Homo sapiens: one gene and its partner. The protein of the gene in region 1 purifies or fractionates together with the protein of each later gene. This does not show direct contact. Each region holds a gene or a part of one and is shown on either strand. Other genes may lie near its edges. The genes, in order: ZNF18 and ZMYM6.

The links.
Region 2: the proteins of ZNF18 (region 1) and ZMYM6 purify together in Homo sapiens (affinity purification with mass spectrometry; 2 studies listed by BioGRID and IntAct, with this or other methods). This does not show direct contact.

Annotation. Positions count from the first base shown.
Region 1 is NC_000017.11:11,985,087-11,994,650, forward strand, and holds part of ZNF18 (zinc finger protein 18), read right to left. Parts: exon of another isoform or gene 8,416-9,564; intron 7,826-8,415; 5' UTR 7,744-7,825; coding exon 7,357-7,743; intron 6,078-7,356; coding exon 5,888-6,077; intron 5,465-5,887; coding exon 5,376-5,464; intron 1-5,375. UniProt on the Homo sapiens protein: May be involved in transcriptional regulation.
Region 2 is NC_000001.11:34,985,814-34,995,377, reverse strand, and holds the end of ZMYM6 (zinc finger MYM-type protein 6), read left to right. Parts: intron 1-2,990; coding exon 2,991-3,144; intron 3,145-6,442; coding exon 6,443-8,274; 3' UTR 8,275-9,213; downstream 9,214-9,564. UniProt on the Homo sapiens protein: Plays a role in the regulation of cell morphology and cytoskeletal organization.

The DNA of each region.
Region 1 (9,564 bases):
TGCATTTAGAGTCTAACATTAAATTAGTTTTCTTTCCAGATAGTGGAAAACTGGTAGGTTCTCTGGAGCAAGGTGTCCCAATCTCCAAAAGAAGCCCTGCTTTTCCTATGAAACGACAGACTGGAGACTCAAAACTGGGAATACCATACAGCTAGGGTCTGCTTTCATGAATTCAAATTTCAGTCTTCTACCAAGAAGCTGACTATTAGAAACTCAGATTGTATAGCAAAGGGATTAGCAGCCCATTTTTTGGAGTCAGACGTACTGAGTTTTAAGTCCCAACGTTGCCACTTTCTAGCTGTGCAACCTTGAGCAAGTTATTTAACCTTCCAGAGTTTCAGGCCTCACCTAATGATGGCACTGAACTCAAAAAAGTGTTGTGAGGTTTGAGATAAATAATGCAAGTGTCACCTGTTTTCATAGCACACTGTACTTTTTTTATTTATAGTATTTATCCATTTATTAACTATTTATGTGTATGTACAAATGTATGTGCACACATGTAAGTATTTGATTAACTGTTGCCTCTACTAGCAATGTAAGCTCCATGAGAAAAGGACTCTGTCATCCTCTCCATTGTATAATACCTTCCCAGTTCCCAAGACCCTGTCCAGGACAGAAGAGGCACTTGATATATGTTACCAGGGTGAAATAAAGCCCTTAGCAAACAGGTCCTCAGTAGATAATATATATTATTACCATCACATGCAGTCTCCCAGTCTCACCCCAAGGGTTTGCAGAGAGAATTAAGGGATTCTGCACACTTTCAGAAACCGCAAAGTGGATAGACATGAATAGCCAGGCTTCAGGGAATAGAAATGAGGAAAGGAACTACAAAGTCATCCTCCTACTGTACACAATATACTGTTTGGGGAAGGCACTCTCTGATATGATTTGGCTCTGTGTCCCCACCCAAATCTCATCTTGTAGCTCCCATAATTCCCATGTATTGTGAGAGGGACCTGGTGGGAGATAACTGAACCAAGTGGGCAGTTCTTTCCTGTGCTGTTCTCATCATAGTGAATAAGATAACATCCGATGGCTTTAAAAATGGGAGTTTGCCTGCACAAGCTCTCTCTTTGCCTGCCGCCATCCTTGAAAGATGTGACTTGCTCCTCCTTGCCTTCCACCATGATTGGGGGCCTCCCCAGCCATATGGAATTGTAAGTCCAATTAAACCTCTTTCTTTTGTAAACTGCCCATTCTCAGGTATGTCTTTATCAGCGGTGTGAAAACGGACTAATACACTCTCAGTCCTAAGTCAAGTCTGCCCCCTAGCACATCAAAGGGAAGTGGAAATGGCTCAAGGAGAAAAGAGATACCAAAAACTGTTCAATTAGCAGGTGCTAAGCCAAACACACAAACGAAAGAGGGTTTGGACTTTTTTGGGTGGGAAGGATAGGAAGCTGAAAAGCGACCTCAATATACTGAATTACACAGTCAACTATTAACTATAACCACATTTTTAATGTGAACTTTAATTTAAATTTTTTAATTTTTAAAGTATAAACAGCTAGCAGCTTATTCTGTTAATCTTCTGTGAATGCAGCTATTTTAACAACCTCCTGAAAATAATCACTTGAGCAAACATTGCTGAACACAGGAGTTCTCAGTCTTTGTGGTCAGAACACATGGACCTTGGCTTCAGTGCTAGCAGAGAAAAGGATGCACTTGCCAAGCACAGTAATATCTGCCTGGCTGCCTGGCTTGCTGACACAGGATCTATTCCATGAACACCAGAACAGTAACTACCAAGAAGAGTACAAGGCAGAAAAGGATACAGCCACCAAAACCCCCAAGGGTCAAAATCAGCTCACTCAAAAACCAGAAAAGTTGCTTCAGGAGCACTAACAGGGTACCTCCAGCTTAAAAACACAAATTTACTCAAGAAACTGCCAAGAAGCTGGGTACTTCGAATAAAACCTCCTACTGAAGAGGCAAGACGCCAATGGCAGCCAGCTTGCCTCTTTCTCATATTTAGAAGAGACGGAAAAACCTAACTTTCTATCCTGAAAGACAGACACATGGGATTTGATGGGAAAATTCTATTTTTGTGTGGAACTGGCACCATCTTGTGGGTTTATAAGATATTACAACTGACTTACACTTAGTTACACGCTGTTCCTTTCCTTTAAGTCTGAAAACAGGGGAAGGTGAGTAAATGCACTGCTGGAGTCTATGTGAGGTTCCAACCGAGTCATGGTTTCCACTAATGAAATAACTACTGTGTACTGATAGTAATACCGTATCATTATTCTGGCATTATTTATGAAGTTCCTCACTTATTTAAGAGATTAGAGGGAGTGATTAATTTAAAAATTCCTTTTACTTCCAAAGGATTCCATTAAATATCAAAGTCTTTCTGATGCAAATAATTGCTGTTAGTTTGGAGGGGATATTCAGATTGGGTAGGGACAACTTTTGTTCATTTGACTTAAATGGTTGCTAACTAGTTATCATCTGAAGGTAGGGAAATACAGACACACATATATATGTAAATACGGTTGTAAAAAACAAATTGGTGCTGATGAGCATTTTAAATCTTTTGACTTTAAGTTATCCAGAACAGGTGAGGATACTCTGTACCTACTACAGAAACAACAATAATCCTCCAAGCCTGGTTGACATATTCCACAGAACACCCAAATCTTTTTCACCAAGCAACATCTTGCTTAACAATTTGGTTTCTGGGCACCTTGAAAGCAGGCAGAAGGGTACCTTTGATTCACTAAAAAGATATTTCTCTCCCCTGCCACCTCCCCATCCACCTTCCCCCAGAGTAAACTATGAAATTGGTATTCTAGTTTTTATATATCTGAGCCTGGAGAGCTGAAGCTCAGACCCTGGTCTGAAACACAGCATTACCTACTGCCTTCTCTATTTTCATATTCACGCTACAGCAGATTGCAAGGCAAGTCCCAAGAGGAGTTCCTTCAACGTTTTAAATGATGTTTTAATTAAGATGTATAGGTTCGTGAAAAAAAAATTTTTTACAAAATACAACTTTTCAAAATTGTTAACTAAATATCAACATAAATCTGTCCCAGAGACTTTTATGTACAAGCAAAAATGAAGTATTAGGAATTGTTGAATTTACCTTCTGCCTGAAACAACTAAAAATGGGACAAAATGTATGAAACAATAGTTTTCAGACATTTCACATTACACAAGCAGAGCAGAACAAGATCCCTGAAAGTGGGAAAGCAAATTCAGTGAGCTCTAGTTATCCAAACTTACTGCCTAGACAGAGGATCCAGGCAGCAGCACAGGAAGGGAAACCCAGGCTGAGCCAGGCAGCCTCCCTGAGTTGAGCAGAAGGAGCTCAGAGTCTGGAAATGCCAAGATCCTTAGAATCGACAGGGTAGAAAAACTGGAGAGAAGGAAACTGCACAAAGAGAAAGCTCCAGAGATCTACAGAGCGTCCCCGCAAAGTCTGGAAAATAACCACCCAAAAGAATCAGAGGGAACAATCCCCTGAGTTCACACAGTGCTGGAAACAGTTCGTATTTCCACCAGGCAAAGTGGAAAACCTGGTATATGAAGGGGCATCAGATTACTCAGAATACTCAGAAGGGAAGTGCCTTAGCATGGAAAGAATAATCCTCGACTAAATGTTTCTCTGGTGCCATGTAATAAACTGTGTCCAAATAACTGCACCCCATAGCAAAGTTCAAGAACATTTATAGTAATACAAAAATATATAGCACCCCACCAATGTGATACCCAATCAAAGATTACCAGGCACGGGCAACATAGTAAGACACACAAAAATTTAAAAATTAGCCAAGCAGGCCGGGCATGGTGGCTCCCGCCTGTAATCCCAGCACTCTGGGAGACCCAGCTGGGTGGATCACTTGAGGTCAGGAGTTCGAGACCAGCCTGGTCAACATGGTGAAACCCCATCTCTACTAAAAATACAAAAATTAGTCAGGCATGGTGGCACACGCCTGTAATCCCAGCTACTCAGGAGACTGAGGCAGGAGAATTGCTTGAACCAAGAAGTCGGAGGTTGTAGTGAGCTGAGATCGCGCCACTGCACTCCAGCCTAGGCAACACAGCAAGACCCTGTCTCAAAAAAAAAAAAAAAAATTAGCCAAGCATTGTGGCACATGCCTGTAGTTCTAGCTACTCAGGAGGCTGAGGCAGGAGTATGGTTTGAGCCCGGGAGGTCAAGGCTGCAGTGAGCTATGACTGCACAACTGCACTCTAGCCTGGGAGACAAAGTGAAACCCTGTCTCAAAACAAACGAAAAAGACAAAGATTACCAGGCATACAAAGAAGTGGGAAAATACATCTCATAATGAGAATAATCATTGATCAAAACTGACCCAGAACCAATGCAGGTAGTAATCAGTAGATAAGGATATTAATACAAATACAACTATATTCCATATGTTCAAGAAGCTAGAGAAAAAATTGAACACATTAAGTATAGACATGAAAGATACAATAAAGCCCCAAATCAAACTTCTAGAGGTGAAAAATTCATCTAAAATGAAAAATATACTGGAAGAGATTAACAGCAGATTAGATGCTGTGAGATGAAAAGACTAATGAACTTAAAGACATCAAAATAGAAACTGTCCTAAATGAAACACCAAGACTTCAAAAACAGAATGAAAAATATACTGGATGAGATTAACAGCAGATCAGATACTATAAAAGAAAAGATTAATGAACTTGAAGACAAACAGAAATTGTCCAAAATAAAAGACCAAGACTTCAATAACAGAATGAAAAATATACTGGATGAGATTAACAGCAGATCAGATACTATAAAAGAAAAGATTAATGAACTTTAAGACATACAGAAATTGTCCAAAATAAAACACCAAGACTTCAAAAACAGAAAAACAATCAGTAAGCTGTGGGACAACTTGAAGAGCTCTGATACATGTATATACATTATCATTATACACATTCCACAGGTATTATTTCCCAAGTCCTTAAAGGAGAGGAGAAATAAGCGAGACAGAAAAAAAAATGCTTTAGAAATAATGGCCAAAAATTTTCCAAGTTTAGTGAAAACCATACACCCACAGAGCTAGGAAACTCAATAAATCCCAATTACATGAAATGTGAAAATGACTCCAAGGCACATCAAAATCAAATTGTTTTAAAAAATGAGAATACACTGAAATAAGCAAATATATATATATGTATATATATACACATTATATGCATAAGAACAAAGATAAGAGTACATTTGGCATGATTCTATTTTTACAAAACTCTAGAAAAAGTAAACTAACATATGGTGACAGACAGCAGATCAGAGGTTTCCTCAGGATGGAGAATGGGGTGAAGAGAAGCAGGAGGATGAGATTATAAAAGGTAAAAAGTTTCCTTTTCATCGCTTTTGTACGTCAGCTCACCTGAGGTGCTGCTGGGAGCAGTGAGGCTCCGAGGTCCTGGTCTCTGATCAGCCTTTCCTCCAGTCGGGCAGGCTGGGAGGCAGCCAGGGCTGAAGTGAGGAGAGGAAGTTTTCAGAATCTGGATGTCTTCCTTAACCACTCCCCAGAGGGCGCAGATAACAATCTTCACAAATCAGAACAATACCTGAACAATACCTGTACTGCCATCTATATTTCAAGACTTGTGTTTATCTCCCTGACACACTCCAACCCCCTCCAACATTCCAGTCTCACCCATATGTTCTCCCACCTCCTTCCTCAGAGCCAAAATCCAAATGGTCTGGCCCAGTCATAAAGCAGTTTAAAACACAGACTTTGACTCTCCAAACAAGAGCGGTTTATTTAGGTCTAACCTGTTTGCAAACCTCTCAGGGATACGCCAATCTGAGCAGCATACCATTTCAACTCACTTAGGCCTACTAATCACAATCCCAAAATCTCTCCAAGAGAACACCACACAGCACCATCCTCACCTAGTTCTGCTTCTGTGTCAGATTCCTCTTTCACGATGTGGCTCAGAAGCTCCCCAGGCCCTGAGGATGAATTCTCAAGTCCCAACTCCTGAGGCACCACTTCAAGATGGGGCTCCACTTCCCCCACTTGGCAGCTTGGAGATTCCATCTTCTCTGATAAGATGTCCTGTCCTAGAACCTGGATACTGATCTAGAGACCATATATTAATTAGTAATTACTGAAGAATCCAGAGTAAGGATCTCTAAAAGACACAAAGCTTACTCTCTACAACAGATCATAAGACAATTTCTAAGGATGTGGAGAAAGAGAAAACCAGCTTTTATTTCTAGTCCAGCAGGAACCAGGGAAAGAAACGTCCCAAAAGACACCAAAAGCTGAGGCCCGAATCAGGCGTGGGAGACCTTCAAGACATGCCACTAACGTGCTTCTACTGGATATGCGCCACCAATGAAAACTCAGGCATCTTTTAAATAACTTCTCAAACATTCTAGTCTAAAGGTGGAATGCGCTGGGAGACTTTACCCTCAATCCTCAATAGCTAAAGAGTGTTGAGAGTCAGAGAGTGTTAGAATTACGTGAGGTATGGGGGAACCCAGCTGTGGTATAATAAGAAATACACATTTAGTCTTTGTCCCCAGTTCCCATTCCCGCAGAGCTCCTAAAACCCTGGTAATTTCTTGAGGGACAGGTGAAAGAAGAGTCTTTGTTATTCATAAGGAGCCCTTCTCAACCACACCTGAGTTTATGCTAGGCTCCTAGATAGCTTCAGGATGGGGGCTGGTTGCCAGAGGAACCAACCTTGAGATTAAAAGGTTGGAACTTTCAGTATCTCCACCCAGCTTCTGAGGAGGGGAGGGCAGCTGGAGATACTCAATCACCAACGGCAAATGACTGTATCAAGTGTGCCAAAGCAGTGAAGCCTCCATAAAAATCCCTAAACCATGAGGTTCAGGAAGCTTCCAGGTTGGTGACCTCATGGAGGTACTGGTAACGTAGCACGCCAGGAGAAGCATGGAAGCTCCACGCTCTTTCCCCCACACCTTGCTCTATGCAGCTCTTCTCTCTGGCTGTTAATGAGTTGTATCCTTTAGAGTAAGTCAGTAACAGGAAGTAAAATCCTTCCCTGAGTTCTGTAAGTCATTCTAACTAATTATCAAACTTGAAGAGAAGACTGTGGGAACCTCCGAATTTATAGCCAATTTGTCAGAAGTACAGGTGGCCCCTGGGACTTGTGACTGGCATCTGAGAACAGGAGCAGTCTTGGATTGAGCCCTGAACCTCCAGAGTTAGCTTCAGAACTGAATTGCTGGACACTGTACTGGTGTTAGAGAATCACAGAATTGGCCATTGGTGTGAAAAGCCCCACCCATTTTGTGTCATAAGTGGTATCAGAAAAAAGACAACACACCTGATGGGACCAGAGAGGAGCCCTGTGTTTCACTCGCAGATCATAATACCCTCTGCTTACCCATTGCCACAGTCTCTGGGGGTCCCCCTTCAAGCTTTCCACAAGGGTCACTGCCTCTTCTCCACTTCCTGGACACTGTTTCCGCACCCACATCTGGATCTCCCCAGGCAGGATGGTCAGAAACTGCTCCAACATGAGGATCTCTAGGATCTGCTCTTTGGTGTGAACCTCTGGCTGTAGCCACTGGAAACAGAGCTTCCGAAGTTGCTTCAAGGTCTCATGAGGCCCAGACATCACCTGGTAACGGAACTGCCTGAAAAGCTGGCGTGCGGTCTCAGGGCTGGAGAGTTCCTCTTGAAGGGCAGCATCTGATTCTGAGAACTGGGAGTCCTCGGCCTTCGCCAGCGATGGCAGCAGGCCTAGGGCCTGCCCCAAGTCAACGGGCATTGTCCAGCCTGGCAAGTCCTTTTAAGTAAAGTGCTTCTGCAGTGGAATTGTCTCCGGCAAGAACTAGGTCTTCACCAGGACACTAAAAAGGGAATGAGATTGAGTGCTACACAGAGGAAGGGGACACATTTTCAGAAAGAACAAATTCACATGCCCTACCCGAGAAGCCATGGGGTCAACTATGGAGCTTTTGAAATTGCTCAATGGATACACGATTCTATTTTGAAAGATTATAAACTTGAAGCCACAAAGCAAACTACTGATACTGTATCTAAACAGCCACCATTTCCCTGCCCATTTTATAATGTTCTTTCTTGGTCTTCAAATGTCCAGACAAAATGAAGAATAAAATGCACCATACGAAACTTTTTCACTATAGGTTTCCAGGTAAACGGCTCTTCTACAAAACACTTCTACATCTTCATCTATATATCTGCATACTAAAAAATAAAGCTGGAAAAAGATATTAATGCCCTAGGAATAAAAGCTAATGCCTACATGCTTCTGTAATAAATAGGAGGTTAAAGAGAACAAGTTAAGTCTTCCAAAAGGTACCAAAAGTACTTCCAAAAGTATACCAAAAAGGTGTAATGAAACTTCCAAGAGAGGTCTTTTGAGTGCCATATTAAAATAGGTCTATTTGAGAATTTATGAAAAAAACAAGTATCATACCTGACACTTTCAACCTTGGGGTTAAAGAGGGTGAGAAGGCTGGGCATGGTGGCTCACGCCTGTAATCCCAGCACTTTGGGAGGCCGAGGCAGGTGGATCACGTGGTCAGGAGATCGAAACCATCCTGGTTAACACGGTGAAACCCCGTCTCTACTAAAAAAAAATACAAAAAATTAGCCGGGCATGGTGGCGGGCACCTGTAGTCCCAGCTACTCAGGAGGCTGAGGCAGAAGAATGGGGTGAACCCAGGAGGTGGAGCTTGCAGTGAGCCAAGATCGCGCCACTGCACTCCAGCCTGGGGGACAGAGAGAGACTCCGTCTCACAAAAAAAAAAAAAAAAAAAAAAAAGAGGGTTGAGAAGACTAACTACCTTGAAAATACTCCTATGGTGTTGATATAAATAATCACTATTTTATGTGAATGGTATCAAATTTTAGAAGATCACAACTAAGACAGTAGAAAGAGAAATATTAAATCGCAAATAATATTATTCTAAAAAGGATCATCCACTACTTCTAGTTAACTTTCTTGCAAGTAATCACAATATAGGATTACTGGGTAAATCCTTAAATGTTATGAAGAATTTGGTGGTCATCATTTCTCCCTAAGACTAATCACAGCAATTTTTAAAAAAAGATACCCCATCACTTGAGGATCTGGCTTAATCAGAGATCAGTACAATACTCTAGCTTTTTGTAGCTGCTTATTTCTTAAGGTGTAGGAAACAATGTCTTCATCCTTACCGTTTCACCAAAATAATTTATCCGACATTGGAAAATCATTTAAAAACTAAAAAAGAAAAACAATTTTTTTTCAAGGGCCTGAGAAAGGAAAAAGCGAAGTCAAAAGAATTACAGTTGACCATTGAATAATGCAGGAGATAGGGGCGCCAACCCCCCACACAGTAGAAAATCCATATATAACTTCTGATTCCCCAAAAGCTTAGCAGTCTATTGACTGATGCCTTAAATAGTTGATTAACATACATTTTGCATGTTACTGTATTTTTGTGATAAAGTAAGTTAGACAAAATATTATTAAGAAAATTATAAGGAAGAGGCCAGGCCAGGTGGCTCACGCCTGTAATCCCAGCACTTTGGGAGGCTGAGGTGGCTGGATCACAAGGTCAGGAGATCGAGACCATCCTGG
Region 2 (9,564 bases), on another chromosome or scaffold:
ATATACATAGAGGCAACATATATACATATACAACGTATATACATATATTGTATATGTGTATACAATCCTGTAGACATATTTCAGGCAACACAGTGGTTGCCTGAAACCATGAATCATACCAAACCCTATATACATATATACATATGTATATATATAGAGAGAGAGCACTTAGCACTTACCACTACCTGGAATTATATATATATATACACACATACATATGTGTGTGTGTATGTGTGTGTGTGTATATATGTATATGTATACATATATACTTACGTATATACATACATATATACGTATGTAAGTATATATATTACATATATATACGTATGTAAGTATATATATTACATATATATACGTATGTAAGTATATATGTATACATATATACATATAGATATGTATATATCCATATTATGATATATTATGGATATATGTATACATATATATATATATGTCTATATATACACACATATATACATGTGTGTATAGGCTTCGGTATGATCCATGGTTTCAGGCAACCACTGGGGGTCTTGGAACATATTCCCGGCAGATAAGGGGGAACAACTGTATAAGAAACTGGGAACAGTGGTTGTGTTCAAGGTTGAGTCTGGGTGGACGGCAGTCATTCATGTGTATATTACTTTAATTGCAAAAACCACAATTATTTTTGTACCAACGCAATACTTCTGTACATTTTGAATTTTGCACTGAGTTCATGTATTACTTTTGTTTAAATTAAATTTAAATATAACCTCCAATGGCTTCCCATCACATTTAAAATACAATCCTAATTTTGTTTTTGACTGAGACCTTCCAGATCCTATACAATTTAGTTTCTGCCTACCTCTCCAAATGTATCATTCTCCCCTTGCTTACTGTCTTTCAGCCTTGTTCTTGTTGATGTTCCTAAAGCATGCCAAGCTTTCTCCCACTTCAGGGTTTTTGCACCTATAGTCTGCCTGCCTGGACTCTTCAGACCTTAGACCTTTGCATGGCTTACTCTTTTGAATAATTCAAAAGGTCTCTGCTCAGATGTTTACTTCAGAATTGCCCCTCCTCCATGCCATCACTCTCCATTCCTGTACGCTGCTTTATTTTCTTCATCGCACTTATCACTACCTAGAATTATATATTATTTGTTTTACTTGTTTATTTTTTGTGTCTTCCTCTAGAATGTAAGGCTCATATGAGCAGAACTTTGTCTTGTTTTCTGCGGTATCTCCACGGCTTAGAACAGTGCCTGGCTTGTAGTAAACATTCAGGAAATAAATATTGAGTGAATACACATGTTTTAAGTACATTCCTCCACTCTGTTGTTTGCCCTATAACTTTGTTTTATAAAGACCTTTGTTTACAGAAGTTTTTTTTTTTTTTGGATTAAAAAACTTTACTTTTTGGCCGGGCACGGTGGCTTACGCCTGTAGTCCCAGCACTTTGGGAGGCCAAGGTGGGTGGATCACGAGGTCAGGAGATTGAGACCATCCTGGCTAACACGGTGAAATCCCATCTCTACTAAAAATGCAAAAAAAATTAGCCGGGCGTGGTGGCGGGTGCTTGTAGTCCCAGCTACTCAGGAGGCTGAGGCAGGAGAATGGCATGAATCCAGGAGGCAGAGGTTGCAGTGAGCTGAGATCATGCCACTGCATTCCAGCCTGGGTGACAGAGCGAGACTCCGTCTCAAAAAAAAAAAAATTAATTTACTTTTTAAGAGCTTTATTATGATAGGCAGAATAGTAGCCCCCCAAAGATGTCCATGTCCTTGTCCACAGAATCTGTGAATATGTTACATTACATGGCAAAGGTGAATTAAGGTAGCAAGTGGCATTAGGGTTCCTAATCAGCTAACCTTAAAATAGGGAGATTATCCTGGATCATCTGAGCAGTTTTAAATTTTGAGGTAGTCAAATGTATCAGTCTTTTCTACTTTGATTTACTCTTTTGTGTTTTATTTAAGAATACTTTGTGATCCCAGCTGGGAGTGGTGGCTCACGCCTGTAATCCCAGCACTTTGGGAGGCCGAGGTGGGCGGATCACGAGGTCAGGAGTTTGAGACCAGCCTGGCCAACATGGTGAAACACCATCTCTACTAAAAATATAAAAAATTAGCCAGGCGTGGTGGCGCACGCCTGTGGTCCCAGCTACTCAGGAGGCTGAGGCACAAGAACTGCTTGAACCTGGGAGGCGAAGGTTGCAGTGAGCTGAGATTGTGTCACTGTACTCCAGCCTGAGTGACAGAGTGAGACTCCGTCTCAAAAAAAAAAAAAAGAAAAAAGAAAAGAATACTTTGTGATCTGTTTATTTGAAAGTTCTCTAGTGACTTTAGTTCTTTTTTTTTCCCTGAGATCTTTAATTGATGTGGAATATATTTTTGTGTATGGTCTGAGGTTGGATCTAATTTTTCTGAGTAGCCAGTTGTCCTAATCAGCAAGATTAACAATTGTTTTCATTGTTTTGATCATACTTATTTTAAAAATATATATTATATGTATAATTTTTATATTTATAGTTTATAAATATATTTTTATATTTATAGTTTATAAGTATATTTTTATATTTATAGTTTATAAGTATATTTTTATATTTATAGTTTATAAGTATATTTTTATATTTATAGTTTATAAGTATATTTTTATATTTATAGTTTATAAGTATATTTTTATTTTTATAGTTTATAAGTATATTTTTATTTTTATATTTACAAATATATTTTTATATTTATAGTTTATAAATATATTTTTATATTTATAGTTTATAAATATATTTTTATATTTATATTTATAAATGTTTTTTAAAATCAGTAAATTAAACTAATACTGATTGGGAGAAGTAGGAATCTGTGTGTATTTTCCAAGGTGACTTTTTTATTGCAACCACTCTTTCAGAGGAATTATATTTCTCTTGATGTATATGAACTTTCAATTGATAGCAATTATAGTCAGTGATAAGGTACTAAAAAAAATCTTTCTTTGGTTTCTGAATTTGCTTTTAACTAGGAAAGTACACAGGAAGATGCTATGAAATTTCCATCTTCCCAATCTTCCCAGCCTTCCAGGCTTTTAAAGAACAAAGGCATATCATGCAAACCCGTCACACAGACCAAGGCCACTTCTTGCAAACCACATACACAGCACAAAGAATGTCAGACAGGTATGTATCCTTGTGCGTTCCCATGTACAAAGCTTGTTTTCTGGCTTGTTTGTTTTTGTTTTTTAAGAAAGGAAAAGAAAATAATTGACAGAGTCTTAAATGTGAAAACATTCCTTTTCTTGGATCACATGCTTTGAATACTTAATTTATTGCTTTCATAATTATTAACACTAATAACCAGCTATCATAACAAGCTATTATAATTACTAACATACAGTTTTAGTTAAAAGCATTAGTGATTTAACCTGTTTTTTTTTTTAAATACTGCGAATTCAGTTGTCAGTTGCTAACAGTACAATTAATTTATCTGAGGTATTGGTGACGATGAAAATTGTTTGAGCTTTACTTGAAAAAGTTGTGAAGTATTACTTTTAATCCCACTACCCTTAGATTTTCAATTGCTTTAATAGTCTACTGTGCCTAAAGCACTGGGTTTTTTTTTGTTTGTTTGTTTGTTTTTTTTGAGATGGAGTTTCACTCTTGTTGCCCAGGCTGGAGTGCAATAGCGTGATCTTGGCTCCCTATAACCTCTGCCTCCTGGGTTCAAGCGATTCTCCTGTCTCAGCCTCCTGAGCAGCTGGGATTACAGGTGCCTGCCACCATGCCCGGCTAATTTTTGTATTTTTAGTAGAGACGGGGTTTCATCACTTTGACCAGGCTGGTTTTGAACTCCTGACCTCAGGTGATCTGCCTGCCTCGGCCTCCCAAAGTGCTGGGATTACAGGCATGAGCCACCGCCCCTGGCCTGATTTTTGTTTTTAATAATAATTTTACTTCATAGAATACACTATATTTAAAAGCTTAGTCTGTCAACAAGTAGTAAGTTTTTATGTAGGGTACCTTTATTTTGGTAGAAGTCAAGCAGAATCCTGTTTTCCTTCCTCAGGAAATTTATTTTATATTCCTATTAAAACAATATATTATTTGTACCTGAATTTATATTATATACACGTTCACACATGGAGAGTACTAAAGGATCTGTGGGCATCTATATGTGTGTATGTGTGTGTGTATGTTTGTGTGTGTGTGTGTGCTTATGTTTTGAGTTCTAGATTAAATATTGAATTGTTGGTCAGACGTGGTGGCTCATGCCTATAATCCCAGCACTTTGGCAAGCCAACATGGGCGGATCACCTGAGGTCAGGAGTTTGAGACCAGCCTGACCAACATGGTGAAACCCCATCTCTACTAAAAATACAAAATTAGCTGGGCATGGTGGCACAGGACTGTAATCCCAGCCACTCAGGAGGCTGAGGAAGGAGAATCGCTTGAACCTGGGAGGTAGAGGTTGCGGTGAGCTGAGATCGCGCCATTGTGCTCCAACCTGGGCAACAAGAGTGAAACTCCGTCTCTTTTAAAAGAATAAATCTCGAATGTTTTCTAACAATCGAAATTACTTTTTCATTTGACATTGCATTGGAAACATTATTCCACAACAATATAAATTTAAATATACATTGAGATTATTTTTTTCCAATTTTTATTTTATTATGTTTATTTTATTTTATTCGGGGGTACATGTGCAGATTTGTTACCTGGGTATGAGATTCTTAACATAGATTTCAGTGTATATAATATAACCAACTCCGTTAAGATTGGAAATTTAGATATTTGTATTATAAGCAATGTTGGGTTAAGCTATGTTAATGGATCTTTGTCCACTTGCCTAATTATGTCCTTAGGATAAATCCTAATCAGTGGAAGTGTTGATTCAAAGACTATCATCTTTTTTTTTGTTTGTTTTTGTTTTTGAGACAGAGTCTATCTCTGTCACCCAGGCTAGAGTGTAGTGGCGCGATCTCGGCTCACTGCAACCTCCACCTGCCAGGTTCAAGCGATTCTCCTACCTCAGCCTCCTGAGTAGCTGGGATTACAGGCACCTGCCACCATGCCCAGCTAATTTTCTTTTGTATTTTTAGTAGAGACGGGATTTCACAGTGTTGGCAACGCTGGTCTCAAACTCGTGACCTCATGATGTGCCCGCCTCAGCCTCCCAAAGTGCTGGGATTACAAGCGTGAGCCACCGCGCCGGCCTATCATCTATTCTTAAGTATTTTGATACCTGTTGCCTAAATTGCCCTCCTGAAAAGTTACATCAATGTATGCTCCAACCAGCAGTGTTCAGGAGGATCCATTTCTCTACAACCTCACTGACACTGAGTATCAAAATTCAGAAAGGTTGAATATACAGTACAGTCAATACTAGTATACTCTTCATCCAGATTAATGAAATGTTAACTTTTTGCAATATTTATTTTCTTTTTTTTTCTGGATTGTTTGAAAGTAAAACATTATTTTTCTGTCTCTTTTTCTTCCTTTTCTTTCTTTTTTTTGAGATGGAGTTTCACTCTTGTCTCCCAGGCCGGAGTGCAATGACATGATCTCGGCACATTGCAACCTCCGCCTCCCGGGTTCAAGCGATTCTCCTGCCTCAGCCTCTCAAGTAGCTGAGATTATAGGCATGTACCACCATGCCTGGCTAATTTTGTGTTTTTAGTAGAGACGGGGTTTCACCACGTTGGCCTGGCTGGTCTCGAACTCCTGACCTCAGGTGATCTGCCCGCCTTGGCCTCCCAAAGTGCTGGGATTACAGGTGTGAGCCCCATGCCTGGCCTTTTTTTTCTTTTTCTTTAAAAAAATTTTTTGACACCAGTGTCACTCACCAATAAAAAATTTATTCTTTTTGTTTTTTTTTGAGACGTAGTCTCAAGAGTGCAGTGGTGTGATCATGGCTCTCTGCAGGCTCAACCTCCTGGGCTCAGGCAATCCTCTTGCTTTAGCTACCCAAGTAGCTGGGACTATAGGTGTGTGCCATTGCATCCAGCCAATTTTTTTTCTTCTTCTTTTTTTTTTTTTAATGTAGAGATGGAGTTTCGCCATGTTGCCCGGGCTGGTCTCTAACTCCAGGGCTCAAGTGACCCACCCACCTTGGTGTCCCAAAGCACTGGGATTATAGGTGTGAGCCACCCTGCTCAGCCAAAAAGTTTATTGTTAATTTGATGTGTATCATGGTCTTCAGCCCTAATTTCAATAACCTATTGGGTGCTTGGGATTACTTGTACATGTACCACATCCTACAGTTTTATTATACCTAGTGATCAAGCTTTGGGCAAAGGAGAAATTCAGTTTTCAGTAGCATCATTGGAAGTATTATGACTTGTGCTTAAACTTTTACCAGTGCATTCTTTTGATAAATAGAAATAGTAACAAAATATGAATTTTAAATATGTGGGGAGATACATAAAGAACATTGCTTATTTGTTCTTGAAAATAACAGTGATTCAAATATTTCATTCAGATTTACCTATGCCTAATGAAAAAAATGATGCAGAACTTGATTCTCCACCTTCAAAGAAAAAAAGATTAGGTTTTTTCCAGACTTATGATACAGAATATTTAAAAGTTGGTTTTATTATCTGTCCTGGATCAAAAGAAAGTTCACCAAGGCCACAGTGTGTCATTTGTGGAGAGATCTTATCCAGTGAAAACATGAAGCCAGCAAATCTTTCTCATCATTTGAAGACAAAACATTCAGAATTAGAAAACAAACCAGTAGATTTTTTTGAACAAAAATCTTTAGAAATGGAATGTCAAAATAGTTCTTTAAAAAAGTGTTTACTAGTTGAAAAGTCACTTGTGAAAGCTTCTTATTTAATTGCTTTCCAAACTGCTGCAAGCAAGAAGCCATTCTCCATTGCTGAAGAATTAATTAAACCATATTTAGTAGAAATGTGTTCAGAAGTTTTGGGTTCAAGTGCTGGAGACAAAATGAAAACTATTCCACTTTCTAATGTTACAATTCAACACAGGATTGATGAACTATCTGCAGACATTGAAGACCAGCTGATTCAAAAGGTCAGAGAGTCAAAGTGGTTTGCCCTTCAGATAGATGAGTCATCAGAAATCTCAAATATCACACTTCTTTTGTGCTATATTCGTTTCATTGATTATGATTGTCGTGATGTAAAAGAAGAATTATTATTTTGCATTGAAATGCCTACTCAAATAACTGGCTTTGAAATATTTGAACTAATAAATAAATATATTGATAGTAAATCTCTGAATTGGAAACATTGTGTTGGTCTCTGTACCGATGGGGCTGCAAGCATGACTGGCAGGTATTCTGGTTTAAAAGCAAAAATTCAAGAAGTTGCCATGAATACAGCGGCATTTACACATTGTTTTATTCACCGTGAACGTTTAGTGGCAGAAAAGTTGTCTCCATGTTTACATAAAATTCTTTTGCAGTCAGCACAAATTTTAAGTTTTATAAAGAGCAATGCATTAAATTCACGTATGTTAACAATTTTGTGTGAAGAGATGGGATCTGAGCATGTGAGTTTACCGCTTCATGCTGAAGTACGTTGGATATCAAGAGGGAGAATGTTAAAAAGATTATTTGAATTACGACATGAGATTGAAATATTTTTAAGTCAAAAGCATTCAGATTTGGCCAAGTATTTTCATGATGAGGAATGGGTTGGAAAGCTGGCCTACTTATCAGATATATTTTCACTTATAAATGAATTAAATTTAAGTCTCCAAGGAACTTTGACTACTTTCTTCAATTTGTGTAATAAAATTGATGTATTTAAGAGAAAGTTAAAAATGTGGTTGAAGCGCACACAAGAGAATGATTATGACATGTTCCCTTCATTTTCTGAATTCTCAAATTCATCAGGCTTAAATATGACAGACATCACAAGGATTATTTTTGAGCACCTGGAAGGACTTTCTCAAGTGTTCAGTGACTGTTTTCCACCAGAACAAGACTTGCGTTCAGGAAATTTGTGGATAATTCACCCTTTTATGAATCACCAAAATAATAATCTCACCGACTTCGAAGAAGAAAAGCTAACAGAGCTATCTTCAGATTTAGGATTACAAGCACTATTTAAATCAGTGTCTGTAACTCAGTTTTGGATAAATGCAAAGACAAGTTACCCAGAACTCCATGAAAGGGCAATGAAATTTTTATTACCCTTTTCAACTGTTTATTTATGTGATGCTGCCTTTTCAGCTTTGACTGAGTCAAAACAAAAAAATCTGTTGGGTTCTGGCCCTGCCCTAAGACTTGCAGTCACATCTTTAATTCCAAGGATAGAAAAATTAGTGAAGGAGAAAGAGTAGCAATATGCACATTGCTTAACAGTGAAGTCAATAATCCTGTGTTAAGTTTTGTATAAGTATCCTAAAAGATAATTTCCTAATGTGGATTTGTGTTTTCAGTGATTAAATGTTTTAATAATTTTTCCCTTTTTGTTGAGGAATTTAATAATTATGATTGTTATAAATAATTATGTATAATTATAATCTAGGGTAGAAAATTTAGTTATTTCATTAAATTTGGACTAGTGACAAAGACTGCAGGTAATGAGAAGCCCAGTTTATAATGTAACAGCACAACCTGGATGTTGAAACAGCTTGGCCTTTAGAAGCAAGTGGAACATTTCAGTCTTCTAGCCAACCAGCTACTTACCCCTGCAAGGTTGTGAGTAGGTGGAAAAGATAGATCTTTTTTTTGAGATGGAGTTTTGCTCTTGTTGCCCAGGCTGGAGTGCAATGGCGTGATCTTGGCTCACTGGAACCTCTGCCTCCTAGGTTCAAACAATTCTCCTGCCTCAGCCTTCCAAGTAGCTGGGGTTACAGGCATGTGCCACCATGCCCGTCTATTGTATTTTTTTTAGTAGAGACGGGGTTTCACCATATTGGTCAGGCTGGTCTCTATCTCCTGACCTCAAGTGATCCACCTGCCTCGGCCTCCCAAAGTGCTGGGATTACAAGTGTGAGCCAACGTGCCCAGCTGGAAAAAGATAGATCTAAGCAGCTTGGGTAACTATAAATGGAAGCAGCAGGGGGATTTGAGACCCCTGCTTGGGGCCTTTCTGGCCCAATATACCAGGGCTTAGCAAACTTTTTAAATAAAGAGCCAGATAGTAAATATTTTCAGCTTTGCAGGCCATACTGTCACAACTACTCAATTCTGCAGTTGCAGTGCAAAAGCAGCCATAGACAATATGCAGATAAGTGTGGCTGTTTTTAAATAAAACTTATTCATGAACACTGAAATATGAATTTCATATAATTTTCCTATGTCACACAAGCTTCTTTAAAAAATGTTTTTATCATAAAAAATGTAAACAAACATTATTAGCTTGGGGGAAGGGGAGAAGCATGGAAAAAAATCAGACATCTGGCCAAATTTGGCCCATGGTTTGCCCATCCCAGCTTTAGACAGATTTCCAGGTAAGAGCAAATGGGCCAGGAGTGGACTGTAGGGCTTGGTTCAGTGAAAGCCTCTCTATCCATGCAAGTATCTGAATTTTCAAACACCTTTCACATTTCATTGTCAGCCGAGATAAATTAGAGGGAAAAGATATCTCAGGCAAAGAGACTTATTTAATAATTAATGGTTATTGA